4 separate regions of the Homo sapiens genome follow, and regions 2, 3 and 4 are each linked to region 1. The links come from fine-mapping of genetic effects on gene expression. A gene starts in region 1. Each other region holds a variant in brackets. All regions are shown on one strand. Distances are from middle to middle. Region 1 holds the start of GALNT10 (polypeptide N-acetylgalactosaminyltransferase 10). Region 2 overlaps GALNT10 (polypeptide N-acetylgalactosaminyltransferase 10). Region 3 overlaps GALNT10 (polypeptide N-acetylgalactosaminyltransferase 10). Region 4 overlaps GALNT10 (polypeptide N-acetylgalactosaminyltransferase 10).

What was found. PIP is the estimated chance that this variant, and not a neighbour inherited with it, causes the effect.
Region 2: its variant is fine-mapped to the expression of GALNT10 in whole blood (TOPMed, PIP 0.90).
Region 3: its variant is fine-mapped to the expression of GALNT10 in whole blood (TOPMed, PIP above 0.99).
Region 4: its variant is fine-mapped to the expression of GALNT10 in tibial artery (GTEx, PIP 0.95). The same link has a PIP of 0.9 or more in aorta.

Annotation. Positions count from the first base shown.
Region 1 is chr5:154,186,700-154,194,802 of GRCh38, forward strand. GALNT10 (polypeptide N-acetylgalactosaminyltransferase 10) reads left to right here and starts at 4,034. Exons shown (of 12, transcript NM_198321.4): 1 at 4,034-4,326. The coding sequence starts at 4,168. LOC124901118 (a long non-coding RNA gene) reads right to left here and starts at 3,380. Exons shown (of 2, transcript XR_007059010.1): 1 at 3,297-3,380. RefSeq lists an enhancer at 2,444-3,409 and silencers at 3,630-3,719, 3,810-3,909, 3,920-4,029, 4,120-4,199, 4,270-4,329.
Region 2 is chr5:154,242,193-154,250,295 of GRCh38, forward strand. The region is part of intron 1 of GALNT10 (polypeptide N-acetylgalactosaminyltransferase 10); the gene reads left to right. Among named protein-coding and RNA genes, the nearest start is that of GALNT10, 56 kb to the left of the region's middle. RefSeq lists a silencer at 2,451-2,500. The variant A/G (reference allele first, on the strand shown) is at 4,794.
Region 3 is chr5:154,400,844-154,408,946 of GRCh38, forward strand. It overlaps GALNT10 (polypeptide N-acetylgalactosaminyltransferase 10), which reads left to right. Exons shown (of 12, transcript NM_198321.4): 8 at 3,261-3,368. All of the region lies in intron 2 of SAP30L-AS1 (SAP30L and GALNT10 antisense RNA 1), which reads right to left. Among named protein-coding and RNA genes, the nearest start is that of SAP30L-AS1, 41 kb to the right of the region's middle. RefSeq lists a silencer at 4,501-4,550. The variant C/T (reference allele first, on the strand shown) is at 3,350.
Region 4 is chr5:154,284,035-154,292,137 of GRCh38, forward strand. All of the region lies in intron 1 of GALNT10 (polypeptide N-acetylgalactosaminyltransferase 10), which reads left to right. Among named protein-coding and RNA genes, the nearest start is that of MIR1294, 59 kb to the right of the region's middle. RefSeq lists a silencer at 1,655-1,949. The variant C/A (reference allele first, on the strand shown) is at 3,346.

The sequences.
Region 1 (8,103 bases):
TAGAAGGCAAATACAAAGTTCCTGTCTGTTTGGAACTCACATTCTAGACAGGGAGACCAAAAATGATACCTGCTTTGGAGAAAAATCAAGCAAATGGAGATGGTGGTGGTGCTAGTTGATATCTTAGATCAGCTGGTCAGGGAAGCTCTCTCTGAGGCAGGACCCCTGATCTGGTTCCTGAGAGAAGGCGGAGAGAGAACCATGCAGAGGGGTAGAGGAAGAGATTTCTAGACAAGGGCACAGTAAATTTGCAAAGGCCCTGAGGGAATCATCAATTTGGTATACATTTGAGGAACATAGCAAGACCAGTGTAACTAGAAGAGAAGGAAAGAAGGCAAAAATTAGAAGTTGGGTCAAATAATGTAAGGCCTTATGGGCTGTGGTAAGGATTCTCATAGATTGTAGGTTGTTTTCTGTTTATTTGTTTTGAGAGACTTGGTCTTGCTTTGTTACCCAGGCTGGAGTGCAATTCTGTGATCATAGCTCACTGCAGCCTGAACTCCTGGGCTCAATCCTCTCACCTCAGCCTCCAGAGTAGACAGGACTACAGACACATGCCACCATGCCTGGCTTCATAGACATATTCTAACATGAAGAGAAGCCATAGGCAAGTCCCAGCAGCAGAGTTAGCCTTGTGTGTGTAAAAAGAACATTCTAGCTGCTCTGTTACCAGCACTGTGCTCAGTGCTATAGTGGCACCTAAAAGTTTTTTGCAACATTATTTAATTACATAAATACTGTGTATCCACTGCAGTATAGAAGACATAGGGCTATTCATAGCAACATTATTCACAGTAGCCAAAAGGTAGAAAGAACCCAAATGTCCATCTACTGATGAATGAATAAACAAAATGTGGCATACATACAATGGAATAGTATTCAATCTTGAAAACAGGAATGGAATTTGGCTGAGCGTAGTGGCTCACACCTGTAATACCAGCACTTTGGGAGGCCAAGGTGGGAGGATCATTTGAGGCCAGGAGTTTGAGACCAGCCTGGGAAACATAGCTAGACCCGGTCTCCACAAAAGATTTTTAAAAAATCAGCTGGGTGTGGTGGCATGGGCCTGTAGTTCTAGCTACTTAGGAGGCTGAGGTGGGAGGGTGGCTTGAGCCCAGGAGTTTGAGGCTACAACCAGCTATAATCCTATGACTGCACCAGTGACTGCACCACTGCACACCTGCCTGGGCAACATAATAAGACACTGTCAAAAAAAAAAAAAAAAAAGGAATGAAACTCAGATACATGTTACAACATGGGTGAATCTAAAAAATATTATGAGTGAAATAAACTGGAAACAAAAGAACTAATATGATATGATTCCACTTACATGAGGTACCTAGAATAGTCAAATTCAAAAAGGATAAAGTAGAATGGTGGGTAGTTGCCAGCAGTTGTGGGGAGAGGGTAATAGGGAGTTAGTGTTTAATGGGTACAGAGTTTCAGTTGGGTTGATGACCAGTTCTGGAGATAGATAGCCGTGATGGCTGCAGAACAATGTGCATTTACATAATGCCGCTGAATTGTACACTTTAAAATAGTTCAAATGATCAGTTTTACAAACGTTTATCACAAAAAAATGTGTTTAAAAAAGACATAGAGTTAGGAGCTAGAAATAGAAAAATGGCCATTCTAGGCAGAGGTAACAACAGGTGCAAAGGTACTGAGGCAGGACTGTGCCTGCCTGAGGGATGCTCTGAGGAACAACAAGGAAGCCAATGTCACTGGGGCACAATAAGGACAGTAAGGAGTGAGAGCTGATCACATATGGGCTTGTAGGGTCCTGTACTTTCTTAGGAACCTAATGAGAGGTGGGAAGCCACTACAGGGATTTGAGCAGAGGGGCGATACAATCTAACCTTGGATAAAACAAGATCATTCTGGCTGCCACATTCTTTTATTTATTTAATTAATTAATTAATTTATTTATTTATTTATTTTTTTGAGATAGAGTCTCGCTCTGTTGCCAGGCTGGAGTGCAGTGGCACGATCTCGGCTCACTGCAACCTCTGCTTCCTGGGTTCAAGCGATTCTCCTGACTCAGCCTCCCAAGTAGCTGGGATTACAGGTGCCCGCCACCACGCCCAGCTAATTTTTGTATTTTTAGTAGAGACAGGGTTTCGCCATGTTGGCCAGGATGGTCTCGATCTCTTGACCTCGTGATCTGCCCGCCTTGGCCTCCCAAAGTGCTGGGATTACATGCATTTTTAAATCTGACTCTCATTCGCCAATGGGTATAAGAAAAGCATGTACCTCACAGGGTAACTGTGAGCATTTAAAGAGGTAATGCATCTCAAGGGCTGCCTGACATAGAGTAAGCACTCAATAAAAGGTAAGCATTATTGTGATGGAAATCTAAAGAAAGAAAACAGTTCCCTGAGGAGGAGTTTTAGAAGGCTTCGTGGAGGAGGTGGCAGTTTAACTAGACACGGAAGGATGAACAAGATTTCCACCGACCTAGAGAAGGGGGTTTTATGGGTAGAAGGAGCTGCGTGGTCAACAGCACAAGAAGGAAAACACAAAGCCTGCAACAGGCTAAGCGAAGCTCAGGGCAGGGCAGGGCAGGGCACGGCAGGAGACAGAACGTTTGATCAGCCCTAGCAGGTCATAGGAGAGGAGCATGATGGACTCTAGAGCCGAGGTGATGGAAGCCTTGAAGGTTTTGCTGCAGAAATCAAGAACTGAGCTGTGATGTCAGAAAACTGAATCCCCATCGCTCAGCCTGGAGCTGGAAGAACTTGGAGGCAAGAGTTGCCAGAACGCTGGTCAAGGACTAGTGGCAGCTAGGCACGAAGGTCAGCGGCTGAGCTAGAGAAGCAGAGAATCAAGAGGACGAATGTGGGGGTGGCAGAGAGTAAGGTAGCCAAGGGGGTGCTCCGTTCCACCGCATCAGGGAGGAGGCAGCTAAGTGACCAGCGTCGAGCGCCCCGAGGAGGAGCCGCTGGCTGGCATCACCGTCGGAGTCCGGCTCCACGGCCCTCCGCATCGCCCAGAAGCCCGACTCCTCTGTCAAAGCCCTCGCCACAGTTACAGACACATTGCCTGGTCTAGTGAAATTACGTGTTTCATGTTTCAGCTCCCAGACGTCAGGGCTCAGGTCTGTTTTCATTTCATCCCAGAGCCTGGCACAGTGTTTGGCACATAGTGGCGCTCGCCAACGGTTTGCTGAGAGCTTTCCGGGAAGGGCTCAGTGCGCTTAGGATCCAAAAGCACGCGTGAGAATGCAGGGCATTCTAACTCCAAGGGGGTTGGACTTGCGTGAGGAAAGGTGCTGCAGAGAGGCTACCGTCACTTACCCACCCGCCGGTTTGCAGGATCTACAGACGGGCGGCGGCCGGGCACAGCTCCCTACAGTTTGCAGAGGGCGTTCACACCTAACGCCAGGGCCCCCCTAGAGGAAGAAAACCAGGGCCCGCCCGCGGAACAGTGAGCGTGCAGCACGGCTGTGGCCCCGTTTCATGGCCGGGAACACCGAGTCGCCGGGGTCAAAGTAGGTCCGCAGGTCCTGGGGGCCGAGCCTAGGTGGGCTGGAAGTGACAGCCCCGGGGGCTCCAGGCTCAGAACGCCCGGCGGGGCCCCAGCACTATTTGCATATCCCCAGGGAGGCAGCAAAGGTTCGGCTGCAGTCCCGGGCGGAGGTTGCCGGGCGGGGCGGCAGGGTACCCGGGCGAGCGGACATGCACCCCACCCAGCGGTGCCCAGCCCGCACCAGTTAGCGCCCAACTCGCCAACTCCGGGACTTTCGCAAAGCTCCAGAGGGCGGGGGAGCCGCCGAGGAGTGGGACGGACCATCGCGGCTCGAGAGGGGGGAAGCGCTCCGGCCCGGCATCCTGCAGCGCCCGGGCGGGCCGAGACGCTCCGTGAGAGGGCCGAGCCTGCAGCGCAGAGACTCGGCGGTCGACGCGGGGGCAGGCGGCGCGGGGCGGGCGGCTCGGCGGGGCCCGGGGGCGGTGGCGGCGGCGACGACCCCCTCGTGGCGGCGGCGTGGTGGCGGCGCCCAGCTCCCCGGCCGGCGAGCGGCGGAAGTGCCGCGGAGTTGGAGCGGGGCCGGCGCCGCAGCCGCTTCTGCTGGCTGAGCTGCTGCCGCCGCCGGGCGGACGGGCGGACGCGCGGAGCTGGGGGCGGCGCGGCGGGGCCGGCGGGGCGCGGCGGGGCTGACCGGCCCCGATGAGGCGGAAGGAGAAGCGGCTCCTGCAGGCGGTGGCGCTGGTGCTGGCGGCCCTGGTCCTCCTGCCCAACGTGGGGCTTTGGGCGCTGTACCGCGAGCGGCAGCCCGACGGCACCCCTGGGGGATCGGGGGCGGCGGTGGCGCCGGCGGCGGGACAGGTGAGTCCCCCCGTTGCTACAGGCCGGGAACACCCCCTTCCCGAATTCACTTTTAGCCTGTGGTTCCTTCCTCCACCTTCTGCTGTCTGCCTCCTCAGAGTCAGCTCCGAGACTCTTCAGCTCTTCCCATTTTCCGGATGGGAAAATTAAGTCCTGTCGGGACTTGTCCAGGGTCCCACGCCAGTCAGAGACTGAGTCCGAACTAGCACTCAGGACGCTATTTCTCACCACATGTTACCACCTTCCTTTCTGTCCCCGTCTGGTATTCCTTGACGTCTTCCAGCGGATCTCTTTTGAAGGATCCTATCTGCATCCCTGTATCCCAGGATGACTCCTGCCTTGTGCCAATAGGAATGAAGATTCTGGTTCTTCTATTTGGTGTCCAGGTCCTCTCTGCTTCCCTCCTCCCACCCCCCCCCCCCCACAACCCCTACCTGCTGATCCCAGTGTTCTTTGCTCAGGTCAGCCCTTTTCCTGATTTCTCATCTGCCCAACGAGACACCCGGGCCTTCCTCCTCTCCCCATTTATTCAACACCCCCGCCCCAACTCTAGCCTTTTCCTTTCTCAGATCCTGTGGATTCCTTGCAGAATGTAAAGATCATGCTCCCTTTAAAGCTTCAAGCCCCTGGGGGTGGAGAAGGGGGTAAGCTCCTGGTCCTTGAGGGACCTGCTGCCTTTGACCTTATGGGAGTCCAGAGGTGGGGCTCTGGTGGGGGGACCCCCAAAATGTCCCAGAGGCTATTGGTGCCCAGTGTCCTGAGGATGGAACACCAGAAGCCTTCCCTATCTCTTCTGAACTTGTCTAGTCTGGTTAGTTGTAGTGTTTATTGCAGCCAAAACTGGGATCGGAATGGTTTCTGCCTCCTTTGAACTTACCCACGTATGTTTGTGTGTATGTGTGCGTGCACGCATTTAGACTAGCAGCTCCCTCATAGCAGAAGCTCTGTCACATCACTCCCACCCTCCCAGGAGGTGCTAGTGAGTGTATTGCTTAGACTGTTTCATATAGTGGAACATTTCAGGCTTTCTTACGGGATTTCTCTGGTCCCATGAGAAGTGGATAATTTGTGTATCAGGGTCAGACTTGACTGACTGTTGGCTGGCCTCGACGAAAGAGGCTGGCTTTTCTGAGATTGATGGTTTTCCTTATTCTTCCCAGTATCAGGCTGCTGTCTAGGCAGTCTGGCATCTGGAGCACAGAGGGCTCTTTGCTACAGAGCTGACCAATTTGAGCTCCGCCTGTAACTCTGTTAATTGCTGCAAAGCATCCCAGAGGGTCTCATTGATCTTTCTGGTAGAGCTTACTGTTTAGAAACTAAGGTTTCCATCTCTTTCCTAAACCCCTGGTTCAAACCCTGACAGCTAGCTTAGACCTCTCTCCCTGAAATTCTGTATCTGTATGGATTTTCCGTTCATGAAATCTCTTTCCTCTGTTCCTATTCAGTACCAGCATCAGAGTCAGGAGTTCCAGGGTTCTGACCTCAGCTCTACCACTAACTTACTGTGTGTGTCCTTGATCACCTTTCATCTCCTTTTCTGAGCCTTACTTTCTTGGTCTGTAAACCATGATTATTGGTCCAGTTCTAACATTCTGTGATACTATCAGTTAATCAATGAGGAATACAACGGTCCCTTCTTTTTTTCTGTCTTGAGTCCAGAGTTCCTTGTAGCATCCCTAGCTGTGGAGGCTCCATACTGGACACAGCTCCAGGTCAAGGGGGAGTGTCCTACCCTAGTGCAAACTCTCCTTTAGAATAGCTGTAGCCCATTCTAAAATAGTGCTTGACATTCTGCCTCTGCTTGGAGAAAGACCTCGTATTTCATTTGCAATAGATGCCAAAGACATCCTGATTTTCATTTCTGTAGACCCAGATGGGTAGAGAAGGTCAAGGTTAACTGCCAGTTTGGCCTGAGCTTTCAAAGTAAATTACTCACTTGTGCAAGAGGGTATTGATAGAGTAAGGCAGACTTTTGGGCAGGGAGAGAGAGGGGAGCAACAGCTGGGTGCTGCTCAGAGCCCCTAACTGAAATGGATAGACAGGCTCATCTGGGAAGATCTAGTTTTTGTTCATTTCTTTTTCTCTGGAATAGCATGAAGAGGAGGAGGAAGAAGTGGTGAAGGGGGTTTGGGGGTTTGGGGGGAATACCAACTGATTATTCTTGCTTTAAAGAAAATCTCTTTGCTTCATGGGAGCAGCAGAATGGAGCTGTTTCCCCAATGATAAGCTCTTCTAGGTGCTACAGGATTCAGCATTCATCTGCTGCCTTTCAAGAACGCCCTGCCAAATTTCCACACAGCCCCTTTTTGTTTCACTCTCCCACAGATGCAGAGCACTGGGCTTGGCCCCCAGTCCGTTGTTTGAATGTCAGCTGGCCTTGAGGAAAGAGGCTGACTTCTCAGAGTGATGGTGTTCCATCCCTCATCCCAGTGTACTGGAACATACATGTAACATGCCAGGCTGCTATCTGGGAAATCTGGCATCTTGAGCATACAGAGCTTTTTCAACAGGGCTGACCAGTTCTGAGCTCAGCCTGTCATTCTTGTAATTGTTGAGAATCATCTTTGAGCATCTCGTTGATCCTTCTGGTAGAAATAACTGCAGAGGCTCTGGAGGGAAGTCTGACAGGACTTTATCCAAATGAAAAATGTGTTCCATATGGGTTTGAAAGAAGATTCTTTGAGAGTAACATATCCACTACTTGAGTAGTCCTCTAACTCCTTGATTTCTCCACTGGATTAAAGAACGGAGTTTCAAATTTATAGTGTTTATCATCTGCTAGAATGAAAGTCTACATAACTCATGCCAGCTCATCCTGGGAGTACCTCTGGAGCTGGGTGGGATAGCTGATTTATAAAGGACACATAATGCTTCTAGGATTTCAGCAGTCATCTGGTCAGACAGTTGGCTTCTTGGGAAGCTGCAAAACCAAGCAAGAAATGCCAGCCTTGAAGACATCTTCCTTTTAATTTGTGGGTCCCTCTCATTCCAAGCCCCAATCTGTTTAACATCTTGGTTTAATTCAACAGTCTGTTTCATATTCCAGGTTTGGGACAGGTTATTAAAAGCTCAAGTTAGAAACTCAGTGCAGTCTCTCCTCATTTCTGAGCCATAATCTCTTGTTGAAAAATGACTTCACTGGATAAATAGCATATGTGGAATAGAAATTGGTGGAATAATGGAATACCGGTGACTTTAATTTTCAAGTATCAGGATTTCTTTCTCATTGTGTTAGAGCTGAACTTTATTCTTAGAACATCCAGAAATCAATGTTTTTTTCTCTTTTTTCAGTCTTCCTGGTGGCAGAAGCCTTGCCCATCAGAAAGTTAAGTATAGAAATGTAGCCTTGGAACGATTTCCTTAATTTTCCACAGAAGGGCTAGTATCCTTTAGCTTGCTAATCACTCCTCTGTCTGCATGCCCAGGTGAAATCTGATGCCACTAGGGAAGGGTTGTTGATTTGCCAGAACAAATCCGGCTCCCTACATTCTTTCTGTCATTCTTGGCTTGCTGTCTACCAAGGAGTCCAGCTGAGGAAGGCCTGGGAACAGAGACCTGGCTTTTAGTCCTTTCTCCTGCCCTAAACTCACTGTGTGTCCTCAGGAAAGAGGTTTAACCTCTCTGGGCCTTGGATTCCTCATCTGCTAAGTGAGGCTTAGATTCAGAAGGGAAAAGGCAAATGCATATTGTAACGATGCTTCCCCTCCCATGGCCAGGGCAGACATTGCTAATCAACCTTTTCATTACTAATACCAGACTTGGGCTCAGACTGTTTCT
Region 2 (8,103 bases), 55 kb after region 1:
TCCACTCAGTCTAATTCGATGAGTCTTTTGATAATAAAGCACTATTTTTTTAGGTTGGTCCAGGGTTCCCTGCAGGACAGCCATCTTGTTTGAGGAGGGTACAGTCTCTGCCCCACTTTGAACCTCCTGAGGCCGCACTTTTCTGGTGGTAGCCCAGAAAGCTGCATTTTAAGGTTTCTAGGGTGACTGTTATGGTTTGAGAATTGCTGGTCTGAGCCTGGGCCCTTTGCAGCACTGTTGTGTCCCTCGGGCACTTTTCTTCTTCCTGCTTCTCCTGTATTATGCTCTTTGAATACTCTTTGGTGCATCTGCCCAGGCAGCTTTTCCAGGGTTAATAATAACTGTGATCCTATGAGGCATAAACCCTCCCTGGAGAGGGTCCCAGTGGCCAGGCAAAAGCTCCTAAATCCCTGCTTCCCTCCTGTCACTCTCTTGAGAGCTCAATGACCGTGGGCACTTGTGGGATTATGCCCAAGCACTCAGAGCCCTCCTCTGTGTGACAGTATTGTCCTGGCTCAGCCTTGCTGACCTTGTCTGCCTAAAGTGTCTGAGGTTATTCTAGCTCCTACCCTCAACCCAGACTCCCAGATATAACCCATGCATTTTAAAAAGCCCTTCCTTTTCATTGGTCTCCTTGGAGCACAATAGCCACCACTCCTTAAAAGTGCTTCAAGCTTGTCTAGTTACTGTTTTCAGCCCTGGTCTCTTACAGCTTTGTTATTTGTTCTATTTTGGCATGTCTTTTGATTCTGCAAAGCTTAAATTACTTTCCTAAGAGTGTAGTAAGTCAGTTCTGTTAAAAGCACAGACCATGAAACACAAGCAGATCTGGGTTCACATTATAGCTCTGCCACTTACTAGCTGTGTGACCTTGAGCTGGTTACTTCATGTCTCTGTGCCTTCTCTCCCATCTGCAAAATGAGATAGCATCAGCCCTCACTTTATAAATATTTTTAGAGATGGGGTCTCAACTTATCTTATCTCAAATAAGATAATGAATGAAGGTGATTAGCAGTGTGCCTGGTACACTGTCATTGATGGTATCACTGTATCCTCCCTCGGGAACAGGGACTACTCTTTTGCTTTCTACTCCCACTCACTTCTGAGCATTTGCAGTTCCCATAACAGACAGAAGAGAAATGCAATATTTGTTGAACAAATTATTTGACTCTTCCTGTTTCCATCTGAGTACTATTTAACATAGGACTGCTTGCCAGGTGTACCTGGGTATACTTTCCCACATAAGCAACTTTCCCTTTTGGGGAGAATTTAACCAAAAGTGCCAATATTACGTAGTGGTTAATAATGCATAGTCCAGAATTAGACTACCTGGATTTGACTGCTGTTCTGCCATTTGATAGCTGTGTGACCTTGAGCAAATTATTTAACCACTCTGTGTCTCAGTTTTCTCATCTATAAAAGAGAAGCAATAATAGTTCTTTCTCATGTGGTCATCATGAGGATTAAAGTAGTTAATAGAATTAATTCTTTAAATAGGGTCTGTCACAGAGTAAACCGTTGATGAAAGTTGTTATTATTATGTTCTTTCAAAGATCTTTCAGGGAAGGAGTATTGCTGTCTAAAGGCATTTCAAGAAGTTGCTAGGGGAGCTGGTCTTAACACTCAGAATTCTTCCTCTAAGCCATTGTTTGACAGATATTATAAATTGGTCCCCATCTCTTCAGCCACTGGTGGCTTAATAAGGATTTACATTCCTGAGATGTTAGTGCTTTAAAGGGTGCTTAGAGAGCTTCTTGGCCAGAGTCCTCATTTTATAGATGAGGATAAGAGGCCCAGACAGGGAGGAAGCTTGCCCTGGTCACTCAGTGGGTGAGTAGCAGCACCAGGAACCAGAACCAGAGCCCAGGGCTCGGACCATGACAGCAAGCACTTAGTTTTCATTGCCATGTTCCGCAACCTGCAAGGGATGAGAAGGCTCATTTTCTCCCTAAACGGGAGCTTTGCCACTGCTGGGAATGGAGTGACCGCCTAGCAAGTGATGGATTACGTAGTTAGATAGCAGTCATGTGGCCTGTATTATTCCTTGCATAGCCACAGCCACATTTGTATAATATTAAGAATTATTTCAGGAGGCTGGGTGTAGTGGCTCATGCCTGTAATCCCAGCACTTTCAGAGGCTCAGGTGGGAGGATTGCTTGAGGCTGGGTATTTAAGACCAGCCTGGGCAACATAGTGAGATCCTGTCTCTAAAAAATTTTTTTTTAATTAAAAAAAAAAGAATTATTTCAACCTGCTTTGAAAGTGAGATGAGATTCCAACATATGAAAGGCTTTTTTGGGGGAATGCTGGATCAAGTTTCTACTGTGAGCCCAGAGGGCAAAGCTGGGACTGGTGAGATTGGGGGAGTTCAGTGCTTATCCGTGTAATAAGTTAGTTAAGAGTGTTTTCTCTATGCTGGAGGACTGCCCAGGATGGAGTGATAATCCGGCAGACAGCAAGGGTGGCAGATGTGAAAACACGTGAGCCCAGTAAAGGGGAACAGGTGCTGTGAGAGAAGCAAAGGCAGCAGCCAGAGAGGGCAAAAAGCAGGGGCAGCCACTTCAGCCTGGAACCAGGTCTCAAGGAGGTATCACTGCTGGGGTATATCTTCAAAGATGAATGTGTGTTTTCTAGGCAAATGGAGGTTGGGACTTTCCCAGCAGAGAGAACACAGCACAGTATGAAAAGTTCACCATTTTTGGTGGTCTCAAAACTCCTTAAGTGTGGAACATGGAGTTGAGGGGAGACCTAGATGTAAGATAGAGATTGGGGGTGCTGATCACCAGGGGCCTGTGGGTTCTTCCTTGGAGCTGAAGTCCATGGGGTGCCACTGCAGGGATTCTGGAAGCTCATGCAGCAAAATGAGCTGCACAGCTTTGCAATTTAGAAAGCTCACTGGGCTGTCAGCCTGGAAAGCAGGCTGGAATGGACACTGGAGTCCAGGAGAGCTGTTGAAGACTTGTGTGGTGATGCAAGGGGGTGGAGATGACAACTAGAGCCACCATGGTGGCAGTGAGGATGGGCATGCAAAGACAAGGATGAGAGGACAGAAGAGTCCAAGAGGTGGAGTCAGCACGACTTGGTCACCAGTCGGATACGGGGAGGTGAGGGACAGGTGATGTTGAGGCTAGCAATGACAGCTGTTGTGCATTGAGCACTTAGCTATGTGCCCTGCATGGTGCTAAGCACCTGACATGGGTGATCTCATTTTATCCTCACCAGTGGGTACTACCCCTGTAAGCTTGCTCTACCCATGTCACAGCTGAGAAAACTAGCTCAGAAAGGTTCAAACTTGTCCTCAGGTCACAGTGAATGAGTCATATAGCTGGGACTCCGAGCTCTGGCTTTTTTTTTTTAATTATATAGTCGTCCTTTAATAAATTCTACCTTTTGAACACTTTTATCACTTTGTGATCTTCATATATTAATACATTAATATATGTAAGCCACAATCAGAGGGGAGAATCTAAGCATTTAGTCTACCAGGTAATGATGAAAAGAGGATGTGTATGATTAATTCATTTGAAATATTATGGACGTCAATAAACAATGGAAATGGTAAGCATCTGGGATAAAAGTGGGCCTGGCCAGGGATGTCTGGTGATATCTTAAGCGCTTTTTTTTTTTTTTTTTACTTTAAGTTTTAGGGTACATGTGCACAACGTGCAGGTTTGTTACATATATATACATGTGCCATGTTGGTGTGCTGCACCCATTAACTCGTCATTTAACATTAGGTATATCTCCTAATGCTATCCCTCCCCACTCCCCCCACCCCACAACAGGCCCCAGAGTGTGATGTTCCCCTTCCTGTGTCCATGTGTTCTCATTGTTCAATTCCCACCTATGAGTGACAACATGCGGTGTTTTTTTTTTTGTCCTTGCGATAGTTTGCTGAGAATGATGGTTTCCAGTTTCATCCGTGTCCCTACAAAGGACATGAATTCATCATTTTTTTTGGCTGCATAGTATTCCATGGTGTATATGTGCCACATTTTCTTAATCCAGTCTATCATTGTTGGACATTTGAGTTGGTTCCAAGTCTTTGCTATTGTGAATAGTGCTGCAATAAACATACGTGTGCATGTGTCTTTATAACAGCATGATTTATAGTCCTTTGGGTATATACCCAGTAATGGGATGGCTGGGTCAAATGGTATTTCCAGTTCTAGATCCCTGAGGAATCGCCACACTGTCTTCCACAATGGTTGAACTAGTTTACAGTCCCACCAACAGTGCAAAAATGTTCCTATTTCTCCACATCCTCTCCAGCACCTGTTGTTTCCTGACTTTTTAATGATTGCCATTCTAACTGGTGTGAGATGTTATCTGATTGTGGTTTTGATTTCCATTTCTCTGATGGCCAGTGATGATGAGCATTTTTTAATGTGCCTTTTGGCTGTATAAATGTCTTCTTTTGAGAAGTGTCTGTTCATATCCTTCGACCACTTTTTGATGGGGTTGTTTGTTTTTTTCTTGTAAATTTATCTGAGTTCATTGTAGATTCTGGATATTAGCCCTTTGTCAGATGAGTAGATTGCAAACATTTTCTCCCATTCTGTAGGTTGCCTGTTCACTCTGATGGTAGTTTCTTTTGCTGTGCAGAAGCTCTTTAGTTTAATTAGATCCCATTTGTCAATTTTGGCTTTTGTTGCCATTGCTTTTGGTGTTTTAGACATGAAGTCCTTGCCCATGCCTACGTCTTGAATGGTATTGCCTAGGTTTTCTTCTAGGGTTTTTATGGTTTTAGGTCTAACATTTAAGTCTTTAATCCATCTTGAATTAATTTTTGT[A/G]TAAGGTGTAAGGAAGGGATCCAGTTTCAGCTTTCTCCATATGGCTAGCCAGTTTTCCCAGCACCATGTATTAAATAGGGAATGCTTTCCCCATTTCTTGTTTTTGTCAGGTTTGTCAAAGATCAGATAGTTGTAGATATGTGGCATTATTTCTGAGGGCACTGTTCTGTTCCATTGGTCTATATCTCTGTTTTGGTACCAGTATCACGCTGTTTTGGTTACTGTAGCCTTGTAGTATAGTTTGAAGTCAGGTAGCATGATGCCTCCAGCTTTGTTCTTTTGGCTTAGGATTGACTTGGCAATGCGGGCTCTTTTTTGGGTCCATATGAACTTTAAAGTAGTTTTTTCCAATTCTGTGAAGAAAGTCATTGGTAGCTTGATGGGGATGGCATTGAATCTATCAATTACCTTGGGCAGTATGGCCATTTTCATGATAATTGATTCTTCCTACCCGTGAGCATGGAATGTTCTTCTATTTGTTTGTATCCTCTTTTATTTCATTGAGCAGTCGTTTGTAGTTGTCCTTGAAGAGGTCCTTCACATCCTTGTAAGTTGGATTCCTAGGTATTTTATTCTCTTTGAAGCAATTGTGAATGGGAGTTCACTCATGATTTGGCTCTCTGTTTGTCTGTTATTGGTGTATATAAGAATGCTTGTGATTTTTGCACATTGATTTTGTATCCTGAGACTTTGCTGAAGTTGCTTATCAGCTTAAGGAGATTTTGGGCTGAGACGATGGGGTTTTCTAGATATACAATTGTGTCATCTGCAAAAAGGGACAATTTGACTTCCTCTTTTCCTAATTGAATACCTTTATTTCTTTCTCCTGCCTGATTGCCCTGGCCAGAATTTCCAGCACTATGTTGAATAGGAGTGGTGAGAGAGGGCATCCCTGTCTTGTGGCAGTTTTCAAAGGGAATGCTTCCAGTTTTTGCCCATTCAGTATGATATTGGCTGTGGGTTTGTCATAAATAGCTCTTATTATTTTGAGATACGTCCCATCAATACCTAATTTATTGAGAGTTTTTAGCATGAAGGGCTGTTGAATTTTGTCAAAGGCCTTTTCTGCATCTATTGAGATAATCATGTGGTTTTTGTCGTTGATTCTATTTATATGCTGGATTACATTTATTGATTTTCCTATGTTGAACCAGCCTTGCATCCCAGGGATGAAGCCACTTGATCATGGTGGATAAGCTTTTTGATGTGCTGCTGGATTCGGTTTGCCAGTATTTTATTGAGGATTTTTGCATTGATGTTCATCAGGGATATTGGTCTAAAATTCTCTTTTTTTGTTGCGTCTCTGCCAGGCTTTGGTATCAGGATGATGCTGGCCTCATAAAATGAGTTAGGGAGGATTCCCTCTTTTTCTATTGATTGGAATAGTTTCAGAAGGAATGGTAACAGCTCCTCCTTGTACCTCTGGTAGAATTCAGCTGTGAATCCATCTGGTCCTGGACTTTTTTTGGTTGGTAAGCTATTAATTATTGCCTCAATTTCAGAGCCTGTATTGGTCTATTCAGAGATTCAACTTCTTCCTGGTTTAGTCTTGGGAGGGTGTATGTGTTGAGGAATTTATCCATTTCTTCCAGATTTTCTACTTTATTTGCATAGAGATGTTTATAGTATTCTCTGATGGTAGTTTGTATTTCTGTGGGATCAGTGGTGATATCCCCTTTATCATTTTTTATTGCGTCTATTTGATTCTTCTCTCTTTTCTTCTTTATTAGTCTTGCTAGTGGTCTATCAATTTTGTTGATCTTTTCAAAAAATCAGCTCCTGGATTCATTAACTGCTGCGCCTCACCATTCCTTGGGTTTCTGGCTTAGGCCACTGAGGGAATGAGGGCATTTTTCTTTCATGCTGGTCATATAGAGGAGTCAGAGCGGGAGAGGTTGACCCAGTCTTATAGTCCCATATGAGGAATGGCAGTATTTTAGGCTCCAGGCTCCAGATAAGTTGCTGGAATGTCTATGGAGATACTAGAAATGGCTAAGAATGGTTTTGAAAGAGCTCTCAGTAGCTTTGCAGCTTTGCTTTCCTTTTCTGGTGCAATGAGAAAGATTGGGAGTCAAATCCAGCTTCTAGTTTAGTCCCTGTGTTACCAGCTATCTGATCCTAGGTAAGTCACTTTAAGTTCCTGGGCTTGCCCCTTTTCCTTTCACATAATGCAGTTCCTGGTCTAGTCTTGACGTGCATTTGTTCAAACACAGATTTCTGGCCCCCATGCCCAAAGTTGTGATTCAGTAGGCCTGATGTGGAGCCTGAGAATTTGCATTTCTAATAAGTTTCTAGGAGATGCTAATGCTGCCGGACTGGGGACCGCACTGTCCTAGGTGCTCTTTCTGTTCCTTTTGAGCAAGTGAGCTCCATTCCAGTGGGCAGAGACAAAGCAGGCAAATGCACACACCAATATTAATACCAGAGGGCATTCAGTCCAAGGCAGACAGCATAAATCAAGCAAAATGGGTGGCACTTTGAAATGACAACAGAGTAGAATTCATCCTGCCCTTCCATTCTCTCCTACTCTTTTTTAATCCTATGCCCACCACCAGTAAGACCAAGGCCAACTCCAGCCCCCCCCAGTAACTTGTTTCCCTTTGTGGGTTTCAGGATAGATGGGTCCATGGAGGAGTCCTATATACCAACTGTGGTCAGGGCCAAGACACCTGCCCCAAACAGTTGATGGACTGAAGATACCCAAGAGAGGCACAAACTCCCCATGTCACAGGAGTCTACCAGTTTGAGAGACAAAACTTCTACTAAAGTAGCCTACAGGGCTGCCCTTTACCCTAGGCAGCAGAAGCCTATGGTCTGAGTATTGCCTTTGGGTGAGGAGAAGAAAAGCTTCTCTCTCTTGCTACCCCACAGATCACCCATGTTGGCCTCCTTGGCCTTCAGGGGCATATAAGGGAATTTTTTTTTCTTGACCACACTCTAGGCATGAGCAGCATCAGGCCTCCCTGTGACCCTGTGCCAGAAATCTGATGAAGAAATTCCAGGGAGACAAATGGAGATTACATGGAAATCAATCATGCACAGCTGGTGTTTTCTGCAGGCAACTGTTCAATTTTATTTCCTTTTCATTTTTCTCCCCGTTCCCGGGGATCAACTCCTTTAAGAGCTTGACACCAGCTAGACTTGTGCGATTAAGTGGTAAACTTAAACTGGCTGCTGCAGCCCCCTATGTGTTTCTGTGGAACTGGGAGATTGTTCAGGGCAACTGATAAGTCAGTCCTTTGGACCACTGATGGCATGGAAACTATTTAAAGGCATTTTGGTCTTTCTTTCTTGGAGTCTTACTTCCAAT
Region 3 (8,103 bases), 210 kb after region 1:
CACGGGGCTCTTGGTCAGGCCAGAGGACATTCTGAAGTGATGGGCGTGGCCTGCACTGGGATGCTCTCAAAGGACCCAGGAGTGAAGCAGCTTCATCTGAGCAGATGTCTGTCTTCCTGAGGGTAGTTCACATTCAGAGTCGGCCACCAGGGCATCCTGTGCTGGGCAGGGAAGCCATGGAGTAAACCCACTGACCAAACCCTCCAGACATCCCAGGAATCTGAGGGCATCCTGGATGCCTCAAGCCTCCCGACATATCAGGGTCACCCTGGTCCCTCAGGAACCTTCAGGCTGATGGCCAGCATGATTGGGGCCAAAGAAACCAGAGGTCACAGCAAAGAGAAGGATTTGGAAATTTATCATCCACCTGCATAAAGTTAGGTGCCTCTGCCAAGCAGAGCTGGACACAGAGCCTCATTAGCTAATGCAAGTTTAATATGAAGACAAGGAAGCTGGATGCCGACCTGATCAACTGCCCGGGAGACGTTCAGAAATAGAGCAGGGTAAGGTGTCCCACCTGCTCAGGGCCACTGCACCACCTGAAAGGCAGAGGGCAGCCCAGCAGCGACCTGGGCAATACCCGCCAGGCAAAAGCATCACTTCCACATCAATCACTTTGTATAAAGGAAGAGTTATTGTTATGGGATGCTGGCGCCTGATCAATATCTCCTGCTTTGAAAATAAACTTCTTGGTTTGGCCTTGACATTAATCTACCATCAGGAGCCCATTATCTCGAGACCAATGTTCTGTTCTATTGACTGGCTGGATTTTTTTTTCTCCCCCAAGATCAGAATATAATTGCATTTCTCCAGGCAGCACTTCCAATAATTGCAGCCCTGTGCACATCCCCTCTCGGGAGGGCCAGAGTACATCAGGGCTGGGGATGGAGACAGCAGGAAGTAGTGGGGGACAAAGGACCTTTTAGGAGCCAGGTGGAAGAGCAAGCCCTTCTAGAGCCCCTGAATTAATCAAGATGTGAAGCCCAATCCCCACGACCTCATCGAGCAGTTCCAACTGAAAAGAGCACTTTTGCACAGAATCTGGTTTGCAGATGTCCCCATTCCTGCCCCCCATTCCACAAATGAGAGACTATGGTAGCGAGATTCATAATAATGTCCTGAATCCAGCTGTGTCCCCCCATCGCCTCAGCACCCCTCACCCAGGGTCAGGACGGTCTCATATCAGGACGACTGCAAGAGCCTCCCGGGCCTACTCTCCCTGAGGCCTGCCCCATCAGGCTGTTCTCCACCCCACTGGCAGAGTCATCTTTGTAAGATGTAAGTGGATTGTGTGTCTCCCTCACTGAAGACCTTCTGTGAAGACTCCTTGTTCTGCCCCGTGAGGGCCCTGCGGGAGCCCTGCCCGCGTCTCTGGCCTCCCCTCCCATCCCTCTTCCCCTTTCTCCCTCTGCTCCTGCCCTGGCTTTCTTTTTGATTATGCCAAGCTTGGCCCTGCCCTGGTGCCTTTGCACTTGCTCTTCTCCCACCCGTTCCCTTGCCTTTACTTTCACCTTCTTGGTTCCACCTCAAACATCCCTTCCGAAGTGAGGCTTTCCCTGACTGGGGAGCATAAAGTAGCATCTCTCACATCCCATACACCCCTACAACGAATCTATGCAATGGCCCTGCTCTGCCATCGCCACCTGAAACCATCTCCCATGTTAGTTACCTATGCCAGGAAAAATTACCCCCAGAATCCATCTTAACACAATACACAGTTATGATGGCAGCGCTTCCCTAGGCCAGGGATTTGGGAGTGGCTTGGTTTGATAGCTCCACCTTGGGTCTCGCATAGGAGAATAGTCAGGCCATGAGCCAGGGCCGCAGTCATCTGCAGGCTTGACTGTGACCACGACCTCTGCTTCTTGGTGGCTCACTGACCTGGCTGGCAAATTAGTGCTGTGGGCAGGAGGCCTCAGCTCTCACCGCATGGACCTCTCCACAGCATGGCTGGGGTGTCCTCAAACATGGCAGCTGGCTCCTCCAAAGCCAGCGGTCCCACAGAGAAAGGTGGAAGCCACGGCATCTTTATGACCGTCATTTCTGCAGTATCCTGTGGGTTACACAGGTCAGTCCTCATGTGACTCACTGGGAGGCATCTACACAGGGGCACAAATACGAGGAGGCAGGGATTGTGAGGCCACTTCGGAGGCTGGGGCCTCGGCTGACTGATTCACTGCTGTGTCCTGAGTATGCACCAGATCTTGTGCTAAACCCTTTTACACACAATATCTCATCTTCCAGTCCTGCCTCCTCTATTTCTTTACAGGAAACTGAGTCTCAGAGAAGTTAAGTACCTTAATCAAAGTCATAAAGTGGGTAAGTGGCTGAGCCAGGATTCAAACCCAGGCCTGCCAAGGAGGGTCTGTGTAGGCCAAAGTCATCAAGTGGGTAAGTGGCTGAGCCAGGATTCAAACCCAGGCCTCCCAAGGAGGGTCTATGTAGGCTGGGCCCCTCAGTGGGTATGAGTCAGTATTGGCTGTACATGTTCACATTCCCAAGTTGCTATCAGACCAGTGGGCAAACTCAGGAGCTCTCTGTGATGTCAAATACTCCTCCCTGGGAGAGGGAGGCAAAGAGAACCATCAGATCCCACACTGCGGCAAGACCCAGCTGCACAGCCTAGCAAGCCAGACTCAGAGAAGGCAGGGCAGGGAGGCTGACGGAACTGCTCAGGGAGACCCAGCGAGAGGCTCATAGATCCAGGAGGAAAATAAATATGTGACAGTAAATCTACGGAACCTGTGTGCCACCTTGACTACTTATGCTGTGGCTGATGTCACTTTGTGATCACCATGGTCTTTCCCACTGATCCCCCGATGCCACCCTAGAATTCTCAACACAGCACTCCATAGTGGATTAGAGCTCAGATTCTGAAGTCAGCTAAAACAGGGTTTAAATTTTGGCTCCACCACTTACTCTGTGACCTGAGTCACATTTCTTAGCTTCTCTGAGCCTCCATTTCAGCATCTGTAAAATGTTACTACCTACTTTATAGGTTTTCTGATGAGGCTTAAGTGTGGTTGTGCATGTGACCATCTTAGCATAGTGTGTGGCAATGGTAAGCACTCAGTGCTGTCAGCTGTTTTTACCGCTGTTATTATATTACTGTGTTTTCCCATGTCATTAGGTCTGTGATCCAGGCTTCAGCAGACAATCCAGGCTGATGCTTTTGCTGAGTGCACTAAGGGATGCTGGCCTGGCGGGATGGTGAACTGGAAGCAGAAACGTCATCCTCTCTCTTCCTTCTTGCCATGCAGGTGTGGATGTGTGGGGGCCGCATGGAGGACATCCCCTGCTCCAGGGTGGGCCATATCTACAGGAAGTATGTGCCCTACAAGGTCCCGGC[C/T]GGAGTCAGCCTGGCCCGGGTAAGGTGGTGGCTTTCCTTGGCGGGTAGAAGGGGTTGGCCTAGGACCATCAGCTGCACTGAGGCACCCTGGGGCCCTAGACTGTGTTATGTGATCTCTGGGTTTGAGGATGTGCCTCCCATTCTCCAGGTGAAATCTGATTTAAAAGAACTCCCTTAAATCCCTACTTAACCATTCATTGCTATGTGACCTGGGGAGGGTTGCTTAAGTCCTCTGAACCTGTGTTTCCTCCTTTGTTTAAAGAGAGCTAATTCTTTCCAACTCCCAGCATTGCCAGGAGAATTAAGGAGGTGATACTGTTTCCCAGAGTGTGACAGAGGAGACGATCTTAGGCAGCAAACACAGGAATGTTTTCTTGTTCATGTGTTTAAGTTAATGTGGATTCTAAATTAATGTGTATTCGTGTAGCTAACCTGTAATTTCACAGATATTATTACTTAGCATACAGCTAAAGTAGGTGCAAAGTTAGACCAGAGGTGATGTAAAAAAACATGTTAGATAAATATTAATACAGGTGGTGTGGTGTGGTGTGTTTGGGAAAGCTTGCGTACTAAATTTCTGGAGGGGAAGTGGGCTTCATAAATGTCAGTGTCTTTCTCTTCTCCTCACCCCCTGTCTACTCTTACTGCCAAAACCTCTGCATGTCAAACTGTTTCATTGCCTTAAAATGGTTTCTATCAATCATTGCTTCAATTAAATTGGCCACTGGCTGCAAATGGAAATCTGTCAGCCAGAGTTTGTTTTTGGTTTGGATATTAAATGTATTCGGAAAAAAATAAATAAATCCAGGTGACCACAAAAGAAAAATGAAGAGGAGGGAGGGTCCCCAGAGGATAGAAAGAGCCTTGCGGGGAAGCTGGAAAGGACCCCCGCACAGCTTTCCCTCCGGGGAGCCTGTGAGCCCCGCCCCGGCCAGGAGACCCCGGTGCTGGCCGGGTTGGCATTAGACCGCACTGCCTCCTGTCCAGGGCGCTGCCTCCTCCTCCACTTGACAACCTTGACGTGTAGAATTGCAGCCCCCGGGACCTAGAAGAGCGTTGTCCTGTGACTTACAAGGAAAGCCGAGAGGCTCAAAGAGGCCGCGCGTCTCCCTGAGAGCCATCAGTGGGTGGGAGCTGAGCTCCGGGAAGTGTCAGGGGCCGCGTGGAGGGAAAGGAGAGCCGGCAGTGCCCTCCAGTGGTAGCAGAGCCTAACGACGCCCTCACCAGCCATCCGCGCTGCCCACAGCCCCATCCGACACGGGCGGGGGGTAGGTTCTAGGTTCAGTCCCTTGAAGCAGGAATCGCGTTCTTCTGAAAGGCCATTTGGCGATCCCTGAGGAGGGAGCCAGGCAGGAAAAGCGCACGCTCTCTCGGTACGCCCAAGACTGAGACTCTTCCGGCTACAAGGGACCATGGGGACACTCCAACTCCAGACCAGGAGCAACCCTAAAGCATTCTTTTCCTCTGCAGAGCTGTTGTTGATAAGGCTCACCTAAAAATAAAAATAGCCGGGCGCAGTGGTGTGTGCCTGTAGTCCCAACTACTCAGGAAGCTGAGGTGGGAAGATCACTTGGGCCAGGGAGGTCGAGGCTGCAGTGAGCTGTGTGTGCCACTGCACTCCAGCCTGGGTGACAAAACGAGACCATGTCTCAAAGAAAGTTTGTTGTTGTTGTTGTTGCTGTTGTTTTTTTTTTTAAAAGGCCCACCTGATAAAGAGACATTACCGCCTCCTGCTTGTTATAGAACCATTATTATAGATTAATTCAGTGGATAAGAGCTAACTGTAGTAATACTTATAAAAATTCCCTTCGAGCCAGGCATGCAAAGCATTTTACTTATCTCACTTAATTCTCACTTGTTTTTAACCCCATTTTAGGGATGGGGAACATGAAACGTGATGTTGGCGATGGAAACATTAAGTAACTAGTGCCAGAATTCAAACCTGTGTAGGTCTGACAGGTACCTGGCACATAGCAATTGTTCCTTAAACAGTGACTGCTGTTATTAGTGTTAGCATCAATATTAACAATAAAGACTGGAACATGTATTTAAAAGTCTTATCTAAATTCTGTGTTTAGGCATTTTAACGTATTTCTCTTTTACCTATCTGTACTGAAGCATCGTCCTGTGTTTGGCTTTAAGCCACTTAACAATCTGAGTGGTGCCTCATGGCTTCTTCCCCAGGGACTCTGTGATCCATCAGGTCTGATTATGTGTGGGTTCGCAGAACCACAGAGATGCCTGAATCAGGTGCGGCCTTTTATTATGGTGACTAACAACCCTCAATTACTTGCAGACCACATTTAAAATATTTGTTCAGTGGGCCGGGCGTGGTGGCTCATGCCTGTAATCCCAGCAGTTTGGGAGGCCAAGGCGGGCGGATCACCTGAGGTCAGGAGTTCAAGACCAGCCTGGTCAACATGGCAAAACCCCATCTCTACTAAAAATACAAAAATTAGCCAGGCGTGGTGGTGTGCGCCTGTAATACCAGCTACTAGGGAGGCTGAGGCAGGAGAATGGCTTGAACCCGGGAGGCGGAAGTTGCAGTGAGCCGAGACTGAGCCACTGTACTCCAGCCTGAGCGACAGAGCAAGACTCCATCTTGGGGGGAAAAAAAGTGCTCAATGTTTTAATAACCACATCCTAAGCCTTCTAGAGCATTGTCCCCTAGATGATCATTTTGATAGATTTGAGAGTTGTCCTAATAGCTCCGAGAGAGCCAGATAGAGAGAGAAACTGAGATTGTACGGACTCCGGAAGGACAAACAGCCAGACAGCCTTGAGGTAGAAGCAGTTCAGGAAGGATGAGCTGTCCACCAGCTTGCCTGCCTCAGGAACAAGTAGCCAGTCTTACATTGTTTACTAAACTTGCTGAAATCTTTCTTATCTTTGCCTCTGGAAAAAGGATCTTAGGGAAGGCAATAACAGAAACTACTCAAACTTGGTGAAACAAAAATGGAGACTTACTCCAAGGATCCAGGCAAATCTCTGTAATCCAAGCACAAGAAGTACAGTTGGGCCTCAGACGGGACTGGGACTCGGAAGTAGGAAGGTGTTGAGAGTAGAGGTATGAGGAGCCCGAAGCCCACTGAAATCCCAAGGTCCTTTTTATGTCTCTAACAAGGGGAGATGTGAGAGAAATAAGTGTAAAGTCATTTCCTTTGGTGCAAACAGTGAACTGTAGCAAAAAAGTTCAAAATCTGGGAGAAAGAGCTTTTCAAGCTGTGTCTGGAAGATACAATTATGCAATATTAATTAAAATGGTAATTATAATTAGAATTAAAATATGATGTTATTCAATCCTTTAAGAATGACACTGGTAAATTTCAGTATCATTCTTAACCAGTCTGGCCATGGTCAGAGTGTCCAGACTTGTTTTCAGTTGGAGTGAAACTACCCTCATTACCTCTGTGACTCGAGCAGGTTAGACAGTGAGCCAAAAGAGCCTGGTGGACATACTGGAAAAAGCAGAGGAAATATTGTGTTTCAGAGTGTTCATGTAGACAGTCTCTGTTAGGCCTTCAACTTCCTCTAGCACAGTTTTAAATTAAACACAGCCTTTTCTGTGCAGGGGCCTGGTGGGGATAAACACTGTTCCTGAGCTGTTTTCTAACCCACTGTGGACTCTTCAGCACTCAGGAAGAACTAGGTAGCAACAAGGAAATTCAGCTGTTTCCTGGTCCCCAACTCAGAGCCAGCAAAATGGGGGAACTGGTGAATTTTGTCTTCAGTGCGGGGGCCTCCCTCATGTTGGCTTCCTTCTCCATTACTCCAGAGTCAGCAGCCTGTTTTTGTATGGCCTGTGACCTAAGAATGGTTTTTACATTTTTAAATCATTAGAGGGAATGGGAATCAAAAGAAGAATATTTTGTGATACATGAAAATCAAATTTCAGTATCCATAAGTTTTACTGGAACCCAGCCACACCATTTATATGGTGTCTATGGCTGCTTTATAGCTACATCAGAGGTGAGACCATATGGTCTGCAAAGCCTAAGTATTTACTATCCGGCTCTTTATAGAAGACATTTAAACATTTGGGACCCCTGCCTGACCTTCTGCTCCTAGAGCAATCCTTCACACTGAGGTGCAAATGACTGATAACAGCTTAAACTGCTAACTCCCCTTTAACCTTTCAGAGGAAATTTTAGATTGCAATAGGGAAAAAACTTACGAAGGAGGTAAAACCGAAGAGTTAAAATTGGGGTGGGGGGACAACAGCCAGGGGTTGAAGAAAGATGTTTTGGAGCGGAGAATTTCCCCTGAACCCTGAAGTTTTGCTCTCAGATATATCACATATCAGAAGTTCTCACTGGGTGGGGTCTACACTGCAGATGGAATCAGGAATTTTCATCACATACATAAGAATTCCCTCTTCCTCTGTCCCCAAGTCTACTCACAAACACTTTCCTCACCTGCTGCCTCTGCTTGCCAATCATGTGGCTGTCATTTTTTAAAACTGATTATCTTTGTGCTTCATGATGAAAGTAGCAGCAACCTTTGCACCTCAAAGGATTATTAGAAATTCCAGCTGCTGATGGAATTACACCTTTTGGTTTCAAATTATAATTTGCCTTTATCACATAGCTTGGTCAAAACTCTCAGTTGAAAATGACAAAAAGCCAAATCAAATTGGCTTAGCGAAGAAAGAATATACAGGCTTCTGTAACTGGAAAGTCCAAGGTAGCTCTAGCTTCAGACATGGCTGGATTCTGGTGTTAAAAGGCGGAATGCATTCCTGGATCCAGCCCTCC
Region 4 (8,103 bases), 97 kb after region 1:
ATGGGACATAAATATAAAAATGCTTTGTAAATTATAAAATACTACCAAATAGTAACTAATAATGGTAGCTAGCATTGCTAGTGCTTTCTAGATACCAAACACTGCTAAGAGCTATACTTGCTGCATCTCATTTAATCCTCATAATAACCTTTATGCTAGGTACTATTAATTTCCCCCATTTTACAGTTGGGAAACCAAGGCTTGTGAAAATAGCGTAACTTGCCCAAGATCACAGAGCTAATAAACAGAACTGTGGCACAAGCCTAGGCATTTCTGATGCCAAAGCAGATGGTCTTCTTCACTTTGGTCTGCTGTCTTCAGAATGTAGGGGATTATGATTATAATTATTACTATTATTAGAGCAAGTACTTTATTACTGCGTGGCTCAACCCTACTTACCCAGCTAGGAGATTAATAGGATGTGTTTGCAGTCATTTTTTAGTCTCTCTCTGAAAAGTAGGAACTTGCCTTCTGATGAGCTTTCCAGTTCCTTTTTTTCTTTTTACCCATCCACAGCTGCTGTGCAGAGCAATATTGCAGCCCTTGCTCCTGCCCAGCCCGTCAAGCCTCTAAGAAGAGCACTTTCTAGGGGCTTTCCTGTGATTGATCACACATCAGCTAGACTGAGATTTTCAAAACCTCTTGTGAATTGCCCTCTTGGTACAGAAGTATGATTCATCTCAGCACGTTTTCCATATTTGAGGGCTATGTTCCTGCAGCCTTTCTAGATACTGAGTTTGGGAAGGAATGGGCAGGTACATGTGGTAGGTGCTATTAGCTGTGATGATTACACTCATGTGGTGGTTGGCAGTTTGCAAAACGCTTTCATATCGATTTTCTCTCCAAGCCTCAGTTTTGTCATCTACAAAGTGGATATAATGACGATAATAATATAGTCAAGTCTAATCTCATGAAAGAGTTAGGCTATAATAAACCCACCACTTAAGGTGAAAATAACACAAAATCAGAATCACCCTTGACAATCGCTCATGGAATATGAAGACACACCACCTCTCAAAAGTCCAGTGTGGGCAGTTTTAAATCCAGCTTGAACACCAGTGATAACTGTTTCTTTGGTTGAAGTAATCACAGTGCCTTCTGAGGTAATGAAAATACTTATCTTCCTAGAGTAGGCTCCCCCAGCACAGAGCGCTCACACTTCCAGGGGCCAGAGAGAACTGGGGCCTCCAGGGACACTGTGAGGGCAAAGGCACACTCTGCATGAGCACGGGAGGCTCACCACCACCCTTGTAGGATTTCTCTCTTCTTTCTTGACTATGTGTCACTGAATTCTTGAAGGTGAAATAGACATAAAATCCTATCTCATTAGGTCTGATCTCCTGACTTGCTTTCTATGGACAGTATTGAAACTTAAAAGTAACATGTGATGACACAGACACCAGGCTAGGTGAGGGGAGAGCTGGGCTCAGGTCCCAGGTGGGTTTCACCTGCATCTGTGGGACTATTGATATCCAGCTCTTACAGATGAACTTCTCACCTGACTGTCCAAGTTCTCAGGCTCTATTTCTTGACTCAAACCCACAGGACCCTAGTAACCCTATTTTTAAAAAAAATCTGTGTGTGCCCACCCCTACTTCTGCCTTCCCAGCATAAGCTAACATCATCTCTGCCTGCACCACTGTGATAGCCTCCTTCCCAGCCTCCACCCCTCCTCTTGGCCTCCTAATCCCTTTTCCACTTGGCTACAAGAGAGCTTTCCAAATGCAACCTGATCTTATCACCTCCTTATAGAAAACACTTGTATTTCTAAATGCTCCTGGAGGAAAGACAGAATCCTCACCCCTGTCCACCTCTCATTCCTACCAGACTTTCCCTGCTTCTCTGTGCACCACACACACTGCTCTTCCAGGCCCTCCTATGATTCATGTTTGCTCAGCCACAGAATCTTTGCATATCTTTACTTTTCCCTCTGTCTGGAATGCTGTGTACTCCTCTTTCTACTGAGTTAACCTGTAATCCAATTTTCTCAAGAAAACCTTGCAGGCTGGATCAGATCCCCCCAGTCTGATCTGAAAGAAAGGGACTATCTTTGTACCATGTACCCCTCTTTTATGGCCTGCCACTGTAGCTTTTTTAATTTACCTGTAGTTTCGGATGAAAGTCTACATTTCCCCACCACCACACATACTTCTATAAGCTCTATGAGAGTAGGACCCCGTCCGTCTTCCTCACCAGTATATCCTCAGCACCTAGCACAAGGCTTGATTTGTGCTTGTGTTCATCATACACTTAAGTTGATGGACAGATGGACAGACAGACAGATGGACAGATGGATTGATAGGTAAGAGACTCAGATGAACATTATCAAATTATTGATCAGAGTCGATTTGTTTTTTTTTTTTTTTCCCAGTGATAAAACATTTGGGCACTTATCCTGAAGAAAGTGTTGAAATTGTTCTTTTAGAATGGAAGGGAAAAGCTACTGAAGGTTCTATTTGCCCTTTAGATAACAGACATTCCAAAGTATCTTGGCTTTTTTTTCTCCCTGCTGTTTAAAAAATCTTTTAATGAGCTTTCATGCCTTACGTAGCAAATGACCTTTTCTAGAGCCACCTACACCAAACAAAGGAATTGGAGGGTTGATATGGTTCTGCCCTTGGAAACACAGGATCAGCCCTTTGAAACAATGGCTCCTATCTGTGAGTGACCTTCCCCTCTTAGAGAAGGGCCAGATTTCAGATTTCAGCATCCTGGTGTTGAGACAATGGAGTTACTGGAGTGGGGACAACAGACACAGCCCCATTGCTGATTGGAACAGCAGGACTTGCCTGACGTGGGCCCAGCAGACATAGACTCGTGGTTGCTGGGTTGTAATGCCTCCTTCCATTCATAAATAGTGCCATTCAGGTTTGATTGTTTTCTCATACAGCTTGGTCCTGGTTATAGTGAAAGTTAAGTTTTCTCAAAACAGCAGCCTACTGAATAGGTGCTAGGGTTAGGTCAGCCTCACTTAAGTCTGACTGTGGGGTACCAGAATGAATGATCCTCAGCCTATGAAAAGGGGACATTTTCTCTGAATGAAAACAAAATCATCTTTCTCCTTGCATTTCTCATGGGAGGAGGAGGATTCTGAGATTAATTGAAAGTGGAAAGGTAGTAACGTATTTTATTCTTGGAGTTCTACTTCAGCCTGTTCCTTGCTCAAAGGCTTACTGTGGCTGCCCACCTGCCAAGCAGCTCAAATGTAAGGCCCTCCAATTCTGGTCCAGACTTCCTTCCTGGTCTTATTGCTCGTGACTCACTTTTGCATCCTGCTCACTCCAGCCAAATCAGGCTCCTTGCCCTTAAGTAAATATGCCCTTCACTTTCTAACTCGCATTCTTT[C/A]CACATACTTTCCCTCTAGCTGGATTCCACCCCCAACCCCCACCCCTCAACTGCTACCAGTTAAAATCCTACCCCTTCTCTCAGGTTCCTGTCAAAGACTCTGCTTCTGCAGGAATTCTTCCCCGATCGTCCCAGGTAGAATTTAATTTTTGGCTTTTGTAAATATCTATCGAATTTATCTGTACAGCTTTCAAGGCACTATGTTATAGGCTTGTATGTGTGTATGTGTGTTTTCCTTCCTTAAATACTTGTCTCATAGCTGTTTGTGGAGGCCATGGACTACCTTGTTCATCTTTGTCTCTCCCAGAGGTCTTTGGCCATAGTAGGCCCTCAATAATCATTGTTTGGATGAATGAATTAATAAAAACAATCCAGCTTATGTCCTCAAAACTCATGAAGAAAGTACATTTATCTAATTGTCCAAACTCCCTTGTTTAAACTTTATATGCTTTGAGCTAAATTAAGCCCTACCTGGTCCTCTTTGAAGGTAATCTTGAAGAAATTGCTTTGCTGTGTGTGTGTGTGTGTGTGTGTGAGAGAGAGAGAGAGAGTGTGCATGTGTGTGCATGTGTGTGTGTGTGAGAGAGAGAGAGAGAGAAGTTTATTAATCTACTTGGTAGATAAACAGATGTTTGAAATGATATAGTTATTTAAACCTCAAAGCAAAATCATTTCATTGCCTTTGTAGGGTTCTTTGAGAGGAAGGTGGAGGGGAGCCATCCTAAAATTTGCAGCAGAGCCTGGTCTCTAACACAGCCTCAGACTGTGGATGAAGCAGATGACCTGCTCAGCTTTCCTTCCAACATTGCTGTTTGAGCGCATACAGCCCTTTCCTTGTTTTGAAGACACTAGCCAGCTCAGCCAGAGATGCTCTTTGCCAAGTCTGCAGTCTTGGGATTAGAGTATGCACTTTAACAAATCTTCCTTCTTGAGCAGAATGTAGTTGGCTTGCTTCACCACCATTCTTTCCTACCTCCAAAGGCTGCCAGGCCTGCTAAATAGTGATTAAACAAAGATTAAAATTCCATTTGTGTGTGTGTGTGTGTGTGTGTGTGTGTGTGTGTTTGAACACTAATCGATTCTTTTAGTGGAATGTTAAGTAAAAGCATGCAGATACCAGAAGCAGTTATTTAGAGCAGCCAGTCAAAATCCATTGCCAATTTATTATTTAATGTGATTTCCACATTGATTCTGCCAGTCTCCTCCACACACTCTCCCTCACTTCTTGCCATGTTCCTTCCTAACCCCTTTGCTTCCTGTAGCAGAAGGACATCTGGAAACCAAGAGAAAGCAAAGTAGCAAAAGATGGTTGTTGAAGGAAAATAATTACAGCTTTTGTAGACAAATCTTTGAGCTTACAGAATTAAAGAAACTTAAAATTACCTCTGGATTGAAAAATCCAGACGTGATCTTTTACATAATATTAAGTGATTGCTATTGCATAATTGCTGTCTTTTGAGAAGCAATGTTCCTGCCTTTTCTGTTGTTAATGGTCTTGTGGCATTTGTTTCTATTGTAGAATGCCACTATTAACTAAGACTTTTTTCTTTCCTTGAAGAACACTGTGTTTCGATGTGGGCATATGACATCCTGTTAATGAGGAAATTCTAAATCCTGTTATCAGCAAGAGCCAGTTGAATTGAATCAGGTGGTAGATAGGTTGCCTCTGCAGGACCCACAGTTTTCCTTATTAGTTTCCTGTTCGCTCTCCTATTCCTCCAAACATGGTTATCACAAACACTGGAACATACCGTGTTTTCATAAACTTTCCCTAAAAATAATGTATTCATAGTTGCTCACCTTTACTAGGAGAGGACCTAACTTTGTCCCAGACACTGGGACACTTTGTCCCGGATTAGCTCAGTTAATCCTCCCAACAGATACTCTTATTCTGTTAGTTTTCTCTATTTATCAGTCAGGGAAATTGGGCTCCACCTGCCCAGGAAGTAAAACCTAGGTTTTCCTAACTCTGGAACCAGAATGTTCCAAGTCATTAAACTAGACTACCTTTCCCATTGATGAGCATTCATTCATTCATTCAGCTGGTATTTTTCAAGGGCCTAAGATTAGTCAGGTATTGGCCTAGGAAAGTGCAGTGGTGTAATGCCCCTGCCTTCAAGAAGCTTACAGTCTATTCCAGGGAGAGAACTGCAAGCTCTGGTTTGGTCCTTGGGGCTGACAAGCTGTAGGATTTAGGGCAAGTCCATTCTACTCTGTTAGCCTCAGATTTCGTATCTGTAAAATGAGGCAGCTAGATTTAGACCAAAGGTCTTCCAACTTTATTGTGAATTAGAATCACATGGAGAATGTGTTTTCTAAAAAAGGTATCTTCCTGGGCTCCTATCTGTAGACATTTTTACTTAGTAGGTTCAGGGTGTGAGTCCAGGAATTTGCATCTATAATAAGGGCCCAGGTTCTCCAAGAACCACCTTTTGAAAGAGACTGATCTTTCTGTAAACCTCATTAGGCCTACACAGTATCTGTGCTGTCAAACCTGAATCCCTGGTGCCTGACACACTGCTTTGTACAGAGTAGGTGTCAGTAAACATTTGGTGATAGTTTAGATGATCTGGGGTTTCTTAATCTGCACTATCTCTAGAAATTCCATGGATTGTCCTCAGAGGCTCCTAAACCACCTGAAATTGACCACAATTTCCATTAAGGTTTTTGGATAGGATTCTTAGGGCCCTTCAGGCTCCATGTACTCTGTAATTTTTTTTTTTTTTTTTTGAGACGGAGTCTCACTCTGTTGCCCAGGCTGGAGTGCAGTTGCACAATCGCGGCTCACCACAACCTCTGCTTCCTGAGTTCAAGTGATTCTACTGCCTCAGCCTCCCAAATAGCTGGGATTATAGGTGTGTGCCATGACACTCAGCTAATTTTTTTTTTTTTTTTTTTTTTTTTGTATTTTTAGTAGAGACACGGTTTCACCATGTTGGCCAGGCTGGTCTCAAACTGACCTCAAGTGATCCGCCCACCTCAGCCTTCCAAAGTATTGGGATTACAGGCGTAAGCCACCACACCTGACCAACTCTATAATTTTAAGACTGAAACTAGTTTTCCACCCTACTGAAGGCCCAGACCTATAACTGGGATACTTTTTAACCTATACAATAAAATTTGAGTTTTATATCTACATGATTTGGTGAGATGTCAATTTACAGTAGATTCTTAAAATCCTAAAGGAGTCAGTGTCCTCAATCCATGTGTAAATTAGGAGAGCGCTCAGGCTATACTGTTTGTGATTGTCTCCGTTCATCTGAAAGTACCTTTGGGCAGGTAGTGCTGTCTCCATTTTCCAGGTGGGAAAATTGAGGTACCTGTGACTCCTGTAGCTCATGCAAGGTCACACTCAAGGGTTCTTTCCCACTAAAAACTAACCTGGGAGTCAAAGGACATGGTTTTTATCCTCTTGCCTGCTGTGAGGCCTTGGTTGGGTAGCTTGGCTTGTTTGGACTTCAGTTCCTTTATCTGTAAGATGAGCGGAGGTGTACTAATTGTCTCTGAGCAGCTATTTAGCTCAGATGGCTGAGGACTCTAGCAGCTGCGTGCTTAGACATGTAGAACTCCCTGTGTCAGCAGGCTCCAAAGTCCTCCTGGTTTAGGGAAGGTATAAGGACCAATGAGACCTAAAACAGCATAGTTCATCTCTGCAGACCCTGGGAGGGAGGGATAGAGGGAGCAGTGTGCATCATAAGGCAAAGGCAGTGGAGTTAGGTATGAAACTCCCAGGATTTTGGAGCCTTAATTCTCAATGCCATCAGTTCAGCAATCCAGTGTTTCATTTTGAGAACATGATTCTAGGGGTTTACTTCTGTGAGGTCAAAACAGTGAGATTTATCCCTGTACCCCATTCCCAGTAGCACTGGAAGACTTTCACAAGCTTGTAGAGGAAATAGTATCCTTCATGGAATCTTAGACTCTTGAAGGGCCCTTTAAAGGTTGCCTAACCCTTGCTACTCAAAGTGTCTTTTTTGGCCCAGCAGCGTCAGCATCACCTGGGTTCTTGTTAGAAATGCAGAATCTCAGGCCCCGCCCTAGACCTACTGTGCCAGAATCAGCATTAACAAGATCCATGCATGATTCTCCTGCACATTAAAATTTGAGAAGCACTAGTCCCAACCCTGCACTTGATTCTTCTCCTTCACATCCTGATGAACACTCAATCTTTCTATTCCTGGCCACTTCTAATATCTTCTTCCAAATGGTTTTATTTCATCCTAGCAGCGACCCAACTTTTGGAATTTCTTCTCTGTCTGAGGCCCCTCAATCATTCAGTAACATCTACCATTGGCCCTTAGTGTAGCCTTAGGACTTCATGGAACAAAATAACTTCTCCCATGTCCTCCAGGGCTTCTTATCTCCTAGTCCTCATAGTTTCTAATCTTTCCCAACCAGGATACATTCCTGAATATCCCAGCATGTTTCAAGCTCACCAGGGCCAGGCAGGTAACAAAAATGAGATATGGGAGGCAGGTGAAATGCAATAAGGAATGGTAGGGACTGTGGCAAACTGGGGAGACGTGCCCCATCCACACAGCCCAGCTGATGAGCTGAGGGAAGTCAGCCCAGTACTGGCATGTCTTTTAGGTTTTCAAGAGAAGCCAAAAATCTTGATAAAACAATATGAAATCTCCCCATTTTCACACTAGAATTAAGAAAACCAAACCAAAACGAAAAGCACCTTGAAAGCCACCAGGTTGTTTGCCAGTGACCACATTTGGCCCACGGGCCTCAGGGTTTTGCAGCCTTCTATGA